2 separate regions of the Homo sapiens genome follow, and region 1 is linked to region 2. The links come from fine-mapping of genetic effects on gene expression. A gene starts in region 2. The other region holds a variant in brackets. All regions are shown on one strand. Distances are between the middles of the regions. Region 1 overlaps MPP1 (MAGUK p55 scaffold protein 1). Region 2 holds the start of DKC1 (dyskerin pseudouridine synthase 1).

Region 1 (2,910 bases), 21 kb before region 2:
ATTACAACCATTGTGGGGTTGACACTGAATAGAAATATTAGAATATATTACATGTAGTAATACAAGTTATTGTTTTGTGAAGCAGTTGTTTTAGATATATATGTGGGGTGTGTGTATGTGTTTTGTTTATAGATGTATGTGCAATAATGGCTTGCAATGTACAGTGTATTTCTTAGAGTGAGGTAGGGTCATAAAGGTTTGAGACCTTTATGGTCTAGACCAAAGAAAGAGAGTTGTTTGTGGGTTGTGTCCAGAATGTGCTGACAGGTACTAGATGACACAGACTCAAGGAGCCAGGTCCCTGACTGAGGGCAGGGCACAGTGCAAGATGCACCAAACAGTGTATGGGGTGCTTTGCACACATTATCTCCCACTGTAATGGACACTCAGAGAGTGAAGGGGGTGCCATTAGAGACTGAGTGGCTGGGGGGGGTATGAGGGGAGGGGGAGGAAAGCTGACCCCTTGATTGTCTTTTCCTACCAGGCGAGTGGCAAGTATGGCTCAGTCAGCTCCTAGCGAAGCCCCGAGCTGCAGTCCCTTTGGGAAGAAGAAGAAGTACAAAGACAAATATCTGGCCAAGCACAGCTCGAGTAAGCTTTCTGAGCCTTCTTGCCCCAGGTTCCTGGCAGCATTCACGTGTTTCCCAGTCTCTGTAACCAGCAGAAAAGGGGAGGTGGTGCAGTGCGCAGCAGAAGGCGCATTCTACAGAAAGCATGTCATTTCTTCTGGTTTCTTTTTATTGAATCCATCTTCACAAGCTTGCTGCAGTCAGGCCAGTGGATGTAAAGGAGGACTAGTGGTGAGCCCACACCTGCTCATCACCCCACCCCTCACACAGAAGTAGATGTGGTGGGAGAGGGGAAGTGAGGCAAGAACACAGGCCAGAGGGAGAGGCCAGGGCCAGGTCATAGGGAGCTTCGTGCACCCTCCCTAGCGTTTTAAATTTTGCACTATAGACTGTGGAGCTGGTGAAGGGTTTTGAGCAGAGAATTCGCACGGTCAGCTTTCCATCTGCATTTCTCTTTTCTGAGACGTCACGTGCACACCACCAGCCAGGGAATGATCGTGGCAGTCTTGGGTTGTAGGCAGGTAAGGGGGTGGAGAGTCAGGATGACACCAGGTCTCTATCTTGAGCAGCTGGGTCAATAGCACCACCATCTTCTAAGATAAGGGACATTCAGGCAGAACCGAGATAGCATTGGCATTCTTCAGCTCTAAGTGCCAAGGGAACATCTGATACTGAAACTATGGAGAAGAGATGAGGACAGGAGACAAGAAAAGTTGGCTCAGAGAGATAGGGCAAGGAGGAAGAGAGGGTGCAAAAGTTAGATAAACTCCCTTGCTCAAAATTCCCTCACCACACTAAAAATACAGTCCAAAGTCCTTCCTCCACACCAACCTCCCTC[G/A]TCTCATCTCTAGTCACTTCCTCCCTGCTTGTTGAGATGTCGCGAGGCTGTTTCCCATTTCAGAGTGTGGACCACTGTTCTCCCTAGCTCTGGAAATGAACACTGCTTGGTTTTCTTTGTCTCTAGTTTTTGATCAGTTGGATGTTGTTTCCTACGAGGAAGTCGTTCGGCTCCCTGCATTCAAGAGGAAGACCCTGGTGCTGATCGGTATCTTCTCATTGCCCCATTTGCACATTTCTGTCTTTGTTTTCCTGCCTGCATCACGTGCCCACCCCCAAAAAAGGCAGTGAGGAAGAAAAGAACTGAGGTCTCTTGGGTTCTCCATATAGAGCAGGTGTAAGGAATTTTCTGAATCCTCACGTGCACCCCACCTGGGTCCACCTCACAAATGAAACTAAACCTTACAAGTTTCTCTACTATTTAGCAACGAATTATTTTTGGTTAGGTTTCATGCTGTCTGCTGGCAGTGATACGCTTTGTAAATCTCCCTTCCCCCAAGCAGTGACTCTGACCTGAAACAGAGTAAGTCCTTGCTTCAAACCCAGGTATGTAGGCTTTGCCTCTGGCGGACTGCTCACCTTCCTGTCTTTAGAGTTGACCCCAGCCCAGATGCAACCCCAACTCATGTTCACCTGTTGGCAGTTTTGAGTGCCGAGAGAGGAAAATCCGTATCTTATCCTCGCTCCTCTCCCCCCTTTCCAAAAGATGTTCTTCTCTCTCTACACAGGAGCCAGTGGGGTGGGTCGCAGCCACATTAAGAATGCCCTGCTCAGCCAGAATCCGGAGAAGTTTGTGTACCCTGTCCCATGTAAGTAGCTCTTAGGCACCTTGGAGGGGAGGTGACAGGCTGGTACCACTCGCCATCTGAAATACCATAGTGTTATTTTATTATTTTTTAAATTATTTTATTTTAAATGATTATTAAAACTAAACAAAATATGGAAAGATAAAAATTTGTGCCCACAATTCCTCCACCTAACAGAATAACTGTTTTCTTATTGTTATTCGTGCTGTTTGTCTACATAACAGAAGCTATAGTAAACATTTTGATACTGCCTTAAAAATTACTAAGTATTAAAGTTTATACATATAACTTTGTCATTTTACTTTTTAAACATTTTCTCATGTTCCTCTGCAATTTGCCTAATTCTCTTTGAGAACTATCCCACTCTTGATGTTCAGGCTGCCTCTCATTTTCATGGAATGTCTTCTAAATCAAAGCAGTGCCTAGGAAAGGCCCAAACGATCTCAACAGCAGTCCTAGATATGGAGAAGAGTAGCGCCAGTGATCAGGTGGAGAATTTGATAACTCTTCCATTCCCAGAAGTGATGCTGCATGGTATAGTTGTGTATGTTCCCAGAAAGAAATACGGTGATTCCTCACTTAATATTGTCAATAGGCTCTTCGAAGACTGTGACTTTAAGTGAAATGACATATAACAAGAACCAGTTTTTTTACTCATCAACAATACAATGAAATGAAGTTGAACTAAACCATGTTAG
Region 2 (2,910 bases):
ATAAAGTTACAGTAAGCTAAGGTTGATTTATTCTGAAGAAAAATATATTTTTATAAATTTAGTGTAGCCTAGGTGTACAGATTATAAAGTCTCCAGTAGTGTAATGTCTGAGGCCTTCACATTCAGTCACCGACTCAACCAGGGCAACTTCCAGCTCAGCAAGCTCCATTCATGGTAAGTGCCCTCCTCTACGGGTGCACCACTTATAACCTTGTGTACTATATATATATAATATACATACATATAATACATACATATATAATATACATATATACACACACATATTTATATATATATATAATTTTTTTTTTTTGAGACGGTCACACTCTTTCCCCAGGCTGGAGTGCAGTGGCAGAAACTCGGCTCACTGCAACCTCCTTCTCCAGGTTCAAGCAATTCTCCTGCCTCAGCCTCCCGAGTAGCTGGGATTACAGGCGTATACCACCACGCCCACCTAAATTTTTTGTATTTTTAGTAGAGACGGGGTTTCACCATGTTGGCCAGGCTGGTCTTGAACTCCTGACCGCAGGTGATCCGCCAGCCTGGGCTGGGATCACAGGCCTGAGCCACCGCGCCCGGCCCTGTGCTATATTTTTACTGTCCTTTTTCTGCTTAGACATGTTTAAGTACACAAACTCTCGACGCTGTGTCCCAACTGCCTACAGCATTCCGCACAATACCATGCTGTCCAGGTTTGAAGCCTAGGAGCCATACGCTACACCATATACAGCCTAGGTGTGTAGTAGCCTATGCCACCTAGGTTTGTGTAAGAGCCCTCTGATGTTCACACAATGATGAAATCGCCTAACGACCCATTTCTTAGAACGTATATCCGTAGGTAAGCGAGAAAACAAGGTGTGTAAGGCCAAATGTATGGGTCCCATGGCTGGGTAACTGACTGTAGGCTACTGCACGTGTCGGCTTCCCTTCCGGTTCACCACGTGGCTATGGCAGAGCTTAAACATCCCACAGAAGCGCTCACGCAGGGGGCCGGAAAGTTCCATAAGCGACCACTCGACTGTCCCCGCGGGCTTGTGGCCTCTAGAACTTTCTTGCAACTCGGAGCTCTATCCCTGCTCCGGGGTCCCTCCGCTCCTTTTCTTCTCGGCCCGTTTCCACTACCCTTGCTCCCCTAGTCGCATGGAGCTGTAACGGCGGCGTCCGGGCTGGCAGCAGCACAGACACTGCCACGTCCCACGCCACCGCGGGGTGGGCAGCACGGCAGATGTCTTTCGACGGCGACCCGGACCCCAGGGAGGTGAGAGGGCCGAGCCCCATCATGCCAAGTCACCGCGAGGGGCTCCCACTCTCGCGCCCTTGCCACGGAGCCAGGGCCGAGAGACAAGGCCGGCTTAAGGCCGGGCGGTGAAGAGGCCGACACGCCGGCGGGAACCAGAGGGAGGCGTGCGCGGGCCCCGATACCATCCCCCCACCCCCGTTCCCCGAGTCGCCCGGAGTTAGCACGGCCCGGAAGCCTGCAGCCCTTACCTTCCGCATCCGCCATGTTACCCTGCACCGCGTGCGTGCCGCCCGGTCCACAGCCGAGGGAACGACCGCAGACTCCCGCCGCCTTGGTCCCGTCAGGCCGCGCTGCTAGGACCCACCCACCCGCGCACTGCCCTGTGCGTGCCTTGCCGCGGGGCGGGAGGAGGCGGGGCCATCCCGGGGGCGGAATCCGAGGCGCCCGCTGGTCGTCTGCGCAATGCGATTTGCTGGCTCGGCCAGTACGGAGGGCGAGACCGCGCATGCGCTTCGAGCCTCAAGCAGCCTGGTTGGCCCAGGCTGGAAGCGCGAGTGCCGCCCGCCCCGACAGCCCGGAGTCTGTGGGCGTGGCCCCAGCTGTAGTTGCTTCACCTCCGGGTTTAGCTCCGCGCCTGCGCCTGGGCTCACGGCTGAACGCTCCGTAAACAGTACCTCTTTCTTTGCTTTCTCACACCGACCCTTTCAGGTTGCTGTTGGATCAGTCCTGATGCATAAGTGAACATGTTGAAGCTCGGAGAGGTTGAAAGGCCTTTGCTGCTTGCAGTTCCCATCCAGCTAGAGCAGATGGCCAATAGGAGTAGTGTGCGTGCCACATGTTGACTTTTAAATTTTCCAGCAGCAACATGAAAGAAGAGTAAAAAGAAAAAGGTGAAAATGATTTATAATGAATTTTTTTAACCCAGCGTATCCGAAATATTATCATTTCCACATATAGGCAAAACACAACAGTATGAATGGGGTATTTTACATTGGTTTTTTTTTTTTGTCCCCGCAAAGACTTTCCGGTGTGTGCGTTTATGCTCACAGCACACCTCAATTTGAACTCTACGACCGGGCTTCACGCCAAACAGCAGAGACAAAGCACTGGCACTAAATCTCATAGAAACAGGATGAGCCTGGGTATCATGATAGGCAGCAGGGCTGGAAGCTGGAACCAAACTGATTTCTCCCCAGGGATCTTTGGTGGTGTCTAATTGATCACAGTGTCCTGTAGTAAGCCATCATGATCTGTATAACCCCGGTAACTCTAGGTCTGGCTAAAGGCATTCTGCCTTGAATCACCACAATGGAAAATCATGGTGCCTCATCTAATTCCCAGATCTAGTCAGTCCACAGGCCAGAGCCCGTGAGGTGAGCCTGTAAAGGTGAGGCCAGGCACATGTAACGCTACAAGTGTGTACTTTCAGCCTGCCTCCTCCCTTCTCGTGGGACCCGTGGCCATTTACCAGGGGCTTGCACTAGCCCGTGTGAATCACTGGGGAAGTAGAATGCCACTTGGTCCAATGGTCAGAAGTGGAGTCAGCCCACGTCCCTTTCACTATCAGCCACCCTGTGGCTCTTTCCCCGGTTCTTGAATCCATACTTGTAATAAACACAATTGGTAGCTGGATAAATTCCCAGAGGGGCTTCCTGACTCAAGGACTGAGG

Evidence for each region.
Region 1: its variant is fine-mapped to the expression of DKC1 in whole blood (TOPMed, PIP 0.91).

What each region holds. Positions count from the first base shown.
Region 1 is chrX:154,782,732-154,785,641 of GRCh38, reverse strand. It overlaps MPP1 (MAGUK p55 scaffold protein 1), which reads left to right. Exons shown (of 12, transcript NM_002436.4): 7 at 485-591; 8 at 1,534-1,614; 9 at 2,135-2,215. Among named protein-coding and RNA genes, the nearest start is that of SNORA56, 9.2 kb to the right of the region's middle. The variant G/A (reference allele first, on the strand shown) is at 1,408.
Region 2 is chrX:154,761,560-154,764,469 of GRCh38, reverse strand. DKC1 (dyskerin pseudouridine synthase 1) reads right to left here and starts at 1,606. Exons shown (of 15, transcript NM_001363.5): 1 at 1,489-1,606. The coding sequence starts at 1,504. RefSeq lists enhancers at 1,076-1,175, 1,926-1,985 and a silencer at 1,526-1,825.